2 linked regions of the Homo sapiens genome follow. The gene in region 1 interacts genetically with each later gene. Each region holds a gene or a part of one and is shown on either strand. Other genes may lie near its edges.

Region 1 (3,834 bases):
TGAGGCTGGGTGCCATGGCTCAAGCCTGTAATCCCAGTACTTTGGGAGGTTGAGGTGGGAGGATCCCTCGCGCCCAGGAGTATGAGACCAGCCTGGCCAACGCAGTGAGAACCTATCTCTACAAAAAAAATTTAAAATTTAGCCAGGTGCAGTATCACATGCCTGTAGTCACAGCTACTTAGGAGCTGCTTGAGAGGATCATTTGAGCCCAGGAGTTGAAGGCTGGAATGAGCTGTGGCCATACCACTGTACTCTAGCTGGCGCAATAGAGACTCTGCCTCTTTAAAAAAAAAAAAAAAAAAAAAAAAAAGGTTTCAATAGTGAAAAGGACTATATAGATCTGAAGTGATTATAAAACAAGGAACTGATAACAATGACTTTAATCTGATTATAATAAGCTCTCGGTGTTAGTCCCTGATATTCTTAGGTAATTTTAAAAATTACGTCTCACAATTCCCATTAGGCACGGTTTCTCTTTCTGTTGAAGTGCTGATATTTTATTGTGGGGTAAAGTGGAGATTCAGCTGCATAAAGACCTGGAATAGGTATAAATATTCAAATTTGGCTTCACAGAGAAGACTTGTGACTAGATTTTTCTAAAATGAAAAGACATGTTTGGCTTATGACTTAAAACAGTCAAACATGTTTGGTCAAAATAATACATATACTAACATCTGAGTGCTCAGCTGTAGTCCTACCTTTGAGTTGTTTATCATCAGTCATATTTAATTACTAAGATATTAAAGAAAACTTGAGTTTTATTCTATTGGTAATATTACATTAGGGTTTTGTTTTTACTTTTTGAGACAGTTACTGTCACCTGAGCTGGAGTGCAGTGGTGCCATCATGGCTGACTGCAGCTTTGACCTGGCTCAAGCGATGCTCCTACCTCAGCCTCCCAAGTAGCTGGGACCACAGGCATGGGCCACCATGCCTGGCTAATTAACAAAATTTTTTTTTGTAGAGACGGGGTCTCACCATGCTGCCCAGGCTGACATTAGTCATTCTTAAGCTTCTCAGTTAAATTACATTATGAAACACTTTGTTTTCAGACCATGTAAAATACCTTTCAACTGAGCTCTGAGTTCATCAGTTAACTTCTCTACTCTTTTTAAGGGAGTAAGAATAGTAGAGATAACTTTTTTTCATAACTTTTTTTTTGTTTGTTTTGTTTTGTTTTGAGATGGAGTCTCGCTCTGTCGCCCAGGCTGGAATGCAGTGGCACGATCTCAGGTCACTGCAACCTCTGCCTCCCGGGTTCAAGCTATTCTCCTGCCTCAACCTCCTGAGTAGCAGGGATTACAAGCACCTGCCACCACGCCCGGCTAATTTTTTTATTTTTAGTACAGTCAGGGTTTCGCCATGTTGGCCAGGCTGGTCTCAAACTCCTGACCTCAAGTGATCCACCTCAGCCTCCCAAAGTGCTGGGATTACAGGCGTGAGCCACCGCACTGGGCCAGAGAGAACTTTTTTAGTAAACATCTATTGGGCACTGAGTTAGTCATAAATGTGGAGACACAGGTGTGAAGTCACATTGATAAAATATTAGTGATATGATAAAGGGACAACAATTAGGGAACGGACTCTTTCTGGACAGGAGGCAAGGAAGAGTGTGAGATGTAGGGAGACTTGGTAGTTGCAAGCACAGGAACTGGTATGAAAATACGTGCGCCAGAGAGAGTTAAGTATGCTTGGTGTGTAGAGTATGAGGTTTAGAGATGATACTGATGTAGGAAGGGGTCCAGTCATATAAAAGTCTGTGCTCCATGCTGATTTTCTTCAAAGAAATGTTGAAAGGCTTTAAAATAGTGACAATGAGCTATATATCCTGAAGGATAAGTCTCATATCGGTAGAAAATGGAAGGAAATGACGGTAGGGATGGGAATTGAATAGTTAAAATATTCCGCATATAAGATGATGTGTAAGATGCTGCTGATTTCTTTTCTACTCTAAGGCAAATATAGTTGTCCCTTGGTATTTGTGGGGGATTGGTTTTAGGACCTCCCATGAATACCAAAATCCAAGGTTGCTGAAGTCCCTGATATAAAATGGTTAAGTATTTGCATATAACCTGTGCATATCCTCCTGTATGTTGTCATCTCTAGATTACTTGCAATACCTAACACAGTGTAAATAGCTGTTACACTGTATTGTTTAGGGAATAATGACAAGAAAATCACAGTTGTTCAGTACAGAAGCAATGTTTTTTGAAAGTTTTCTATCTGTGGTTTGTTGAATCCACAGATGCAGAACTCATGGAAACAGTGCCCACTGTATGTCACAATTTCAGAAAATCAGTATTTCATACAATCAGCTAATAGCCTAATTTGTTGAGCACAGAAAAATACACTGAACCAATTCTGATTATTGCAGAGAAATGATTGGCAGGATATTGGGAAATAGAATGAAGGGTGGAAAGAATTTCACATGGATTCAGTATACTCTCCGTCAGGAATTTTGTTCCCTTGATCTTTTTGTGTTTATGCCTTATTTATTGGGCCCTCTCATAGTTGTGGTTTTCATCTATCGTTACTCCTTTCCCTGTACTGCTAGACTTTCCAGGAGACCTTCATCAGAAAGATTAATACTAAACAAACAAAAGCTACATGAATTTTGAATAATCTCATGTAATAGTTTTAATTAATTGAAACCACTGTTTCAAAGTACTTACTGAGTTATATGTGTATTAGTAATTTATCTCAGAAAGAAAATATAACTGCATTTTAAAATAATTTTTTCACAAATACTTTTATGTTATTGCCATGGTTTAAGCTGTTTGTATACTTTCATGCAGTTTCATGTTAGGGTCTTACAGTGTGAATGACGGTGCGCAACTCTACATGATTGACCCATCAGGTGTTTCATACGTGAGTAATTTTGAATCATTTGAAATTCTATTTTAGTTTAATGGTATTTCATTAGCATTTAAGTCTCATTATAAGATTATATGAAATTAAAAAAAAACTCATTCAAGGAAAGTAATTTTTCTTTTTTTTTTTTTTACAACAACCTCTTGTCCAACAGAATTTTTTTTTTTTTCCTTTTTGGGGGAACAGGGTCTCACTGTGGCCCAGGCTGGAGCACAGTGGTGTGATCACAGCTCACTGCAACCTCTGCCTCCCAGGTTCAAACAGTTCTTCTGCCTCAGCCTCCCGGGTAGCTGGGATTACAGGTGTGCACCACCTGGCTAATTTTTTTTATTTTTAGTAGAAACAGGCCTTTGCCATGTTGGCCAGACTGGTCTTGAATTCCAGTCCTCAAGAGATCTACCCACCTGGGTCTCCCAAAGTGCGAGTATTACAGGTGTGAGCCACCAGGCCCAGCCATGTTTTCTTATCATTAATAACTGATACGAGGCAGAGGAAAGATTTTTTTTCAGTATGTTATTTATAGAAACTGTATAGTGCATATAGTATTTTGAATATGTGATTTTCCTTTATTACTATAAACACTGTCTTAAAACTGTATTTAATGTCTTTTTTCCTCATTCTTGCCCAGGCTGGAGTGCAGTGACACAATCATAGCTCACTTCAGCCTCTCAACTCCTGGGCTCAGGCGATCCTCCTACCTAAGCCTCCCAAGTAGCTGGGACTACAGGCTCATGCCACCATGCCTAGCTAATTTTTGTATTTTTTTGGTGTCTATAGAGACAAGGTCTTTCCACGTTCCCAGGGCTGGTCTCAAACTCCTGGCCTTAAGCAGTCCTCCTGCCTTGGACTCCCAAAATGCTGGGACTACAGGCGTGAGCATCGATGTCCAGCCATGTCATCCCTTTTATTTTATTTATTTATAAGATGGAGTGTCACTCTGTCTCCCAGGCTGGAGTGCAGTGG
Region 2 (2,526 bases), on another chromosome or scaffold:
TATTCATGAACATTGAATAAGTCCCATTGTGGACAGTCTTTCTCACAAGGCTTTTAGAAGTGAGCTTTATGTCAAGTTGAGCAATGCCTGAGAGTAATTTGGTAGGATTATTTCTTTGGTTTGAAAAATCTACATAAGACAGTGAAGACATGTTTTTCAAATTTCTTCAACCTGCTACATGTATCTGAAGTATTTTCTGTTTTGGAAACAGCTTTTCAAGCTTTAATTTACTCAACCATTTCAGGAGAAGCTACTGTGTGTCAGGCATCCTTAGGTCCTGGACACACTGTTTAACAAGATGGGCCCTGCCTATGGGAGCCCATAATTTGAAGGGAAAGTCAGATGCTGGACAAGTCATCTCACTGTGAGTGAGCCAGAAAAAACAGCATTGTAGGTCAAAGTGGTGCAAAGATCGTGAGGTAGGAAAAGAGACTAAAGTGGTTCTAGGAAAAATACAGGCAGGGTAAAGGAGGATACAGGTGAGGTGTGGGATCAGATCAGGGAGGGCCTTACGGATTTCTGAGCTGGATCTTTTACCCTTTTATTTAGCCAAAGAGGTCATGTAGTTATTTTACTAATTTGCATTCAGATTGTTCTGGCTTTTAGAAACTACAAACATTTCTATGATTAGTATTCTTGAAATGATCTTGTTGTAAGTTTGTGAGTACATCTGGAGGGAAACTTTGAGAAGGATTGCTGAGTTCAAGGGCTTGTGTGATTAAGTTTTAAAATTATAAAATGTGGTGCATCCGTGCTAATAATTACCATTCAGCCATTGAGGAAAATGAGGTAGATTTATGCATATTGATGAAGAATGAAGACCACAATATCCTGTGTTACAGGAAAGAGATATTGCTAAGTGGCCCTTCAAAATAGTGTAAATTGTTAAATCCGTCTACAGTGGATGAAGATGTCTGCTTCCTCCAGGTTCACTATCAATGTTTTAAAACTCTAATCTTTATCAGAAAAGAAATATTTCATTGTTTTAAATTTGTTGTGTGTATGGTGAACATATTTGATTATTGGCCACTTACAGTTTTTCTTTTTTTATTAACTTCCGGTTTGTGTTTTTCTTTGATTAAAGAGCTCTTTGTAGATAAAATTAGCTCCCCTTATATTGCAAACTTCTTTCCTCTGGAGTCTTCTGTCTATGGTTTCCTTTACAATTCAGTGGTTTTAAGTTAAATAGTCACATATCATTCAATTCCTTTTTGACTTCTGGGTTTTACCAGGCTTGTAAAAGAGCAGACTAATTCTTGAGTACTTAGGCTTTAGAGAACTTTCACACCTACGGACAAAGATAAGGAAAACCATGATTTTCTAATCTTTTGAGAAAACAGCTCCTTGAAGAAAATTCAGTGTTAAATCCTACTTTTGTTACTGTACAGAAAAATCACTTTTTAAAAATAATTGCTAAGAAGTAAGGTACTTGGATTTTAAGAATGAATGTTACCTAACACAATGGTTCTCCATTTTTTTTTGTTTTGTTTTAAAGACCCTTTTACACTCTTAGAAATTATTGAAGACCACTTTTGCTTGTGTGATCTGCTCTTTTCTGTATTAGAAATTAAGACTGAGAAACTTAAGATATTTATTCACTAAGTAATCACATTACATTAATGTAAATTTTTTTTTAACATAAAATATTTTTTGTTCTGGAAAAGTTTGGAGAAGAATGGCATGGTTTATATTTTTGAAAATTTGCTTTATTTGGCTTAATACAAGACAACTGGATTCTTATCAAATTCTATATTCACTCTTACATCTGTTAAAATATACGAAGAAAACCTGGCTTCACACAGATACGTTTTTAATAGTCTTTTCAGATAAGTGTGGATAGGTTTTTTTGCCACTACACTAAAACCCACAAGTGGCTGTTTCTGAATATAAAATTGCAATGTGGAATCTGAAACCGTATCAATGAGCATTTTGTATCTTGACAGTAAAATCCATTGGTCTATTTTGCACTTGGAATGTATCTTATATTCTTGCATCTATCTTGCATTGACCATTCAGAAATACTGGTTCACTGAGATATGTAGATACCCACATGTTGAGATGCTTTATTATACAATATCAAAAGCACATTAATACCACAACTGATCTCATCAGAAAAGTCTAAGCACCTGTCAAGCTAATGACTGCAGATAAGTTTTCCAAAATTCCTTTTTTTGGCCAGATGCAGTGGCTCACGCCTGTAATCCCAGCACTTTGGGAGGCAAGGCGGGCGGATCACCTGAGGTCACGAGTTCAAGACCAGCCTGGCCAACATGGTGAAACCCCGTCTGTACTAAAAATACAAAAATTATCCGGGTGTGGTGGGCGCACCTGTAATCCCAGCTGCTTGGGAGACTGAGGCAGGAGAATCGCTTGAACCCAGGAGGCAGAGGTTGCAGTGAACGGAGATTGTGCCACTGCACTGCAGCCTAGGTGAAAGAGTGAGACTCTGTCTCAAAAAAAAAATATTCATTTTTTAATTTTTGACAAAATTTTAACGTTTTATATTCTGCCATTGGCAACAAAGGC

The links.
Region 2: changes in PSMA3 (region 1) and PTTG1 impair growth when combined (synthetic growth defect), as found in Homo sapiens cells (one large-scale study listed by BioGRID).

Annotation. Positions count from the first base shown.
Region 1 is NC_000014.9:58,258,153-58,261,986, forward strand, and holds part of PSMA3 (proteasome subunit alpha type-3), read left to right. Parts: intron 1-2,795; coding exon 2,796-2,868; intron 2,869-3,834. UniProt on the Homo sapiens protein: Component of the 20S core proteasome complex involved in the proteolytic degradation of most intracellular proteins. This complex plays numerous essential roles within the cell by associating with different regulatory particles.
Region 2 is NC_000005.10:160,424,589-160,427,114, forward strand, and holds part of PTTG1 (securin), read left to right. Parts: intron 1-2,526. UniProt on the Homo sapiens protein: Regulatory protein, which plays a central role in chromosome stability, in the p53/TP53 pathway, and DNA repair. Probably acts by blocking the action of key proteins.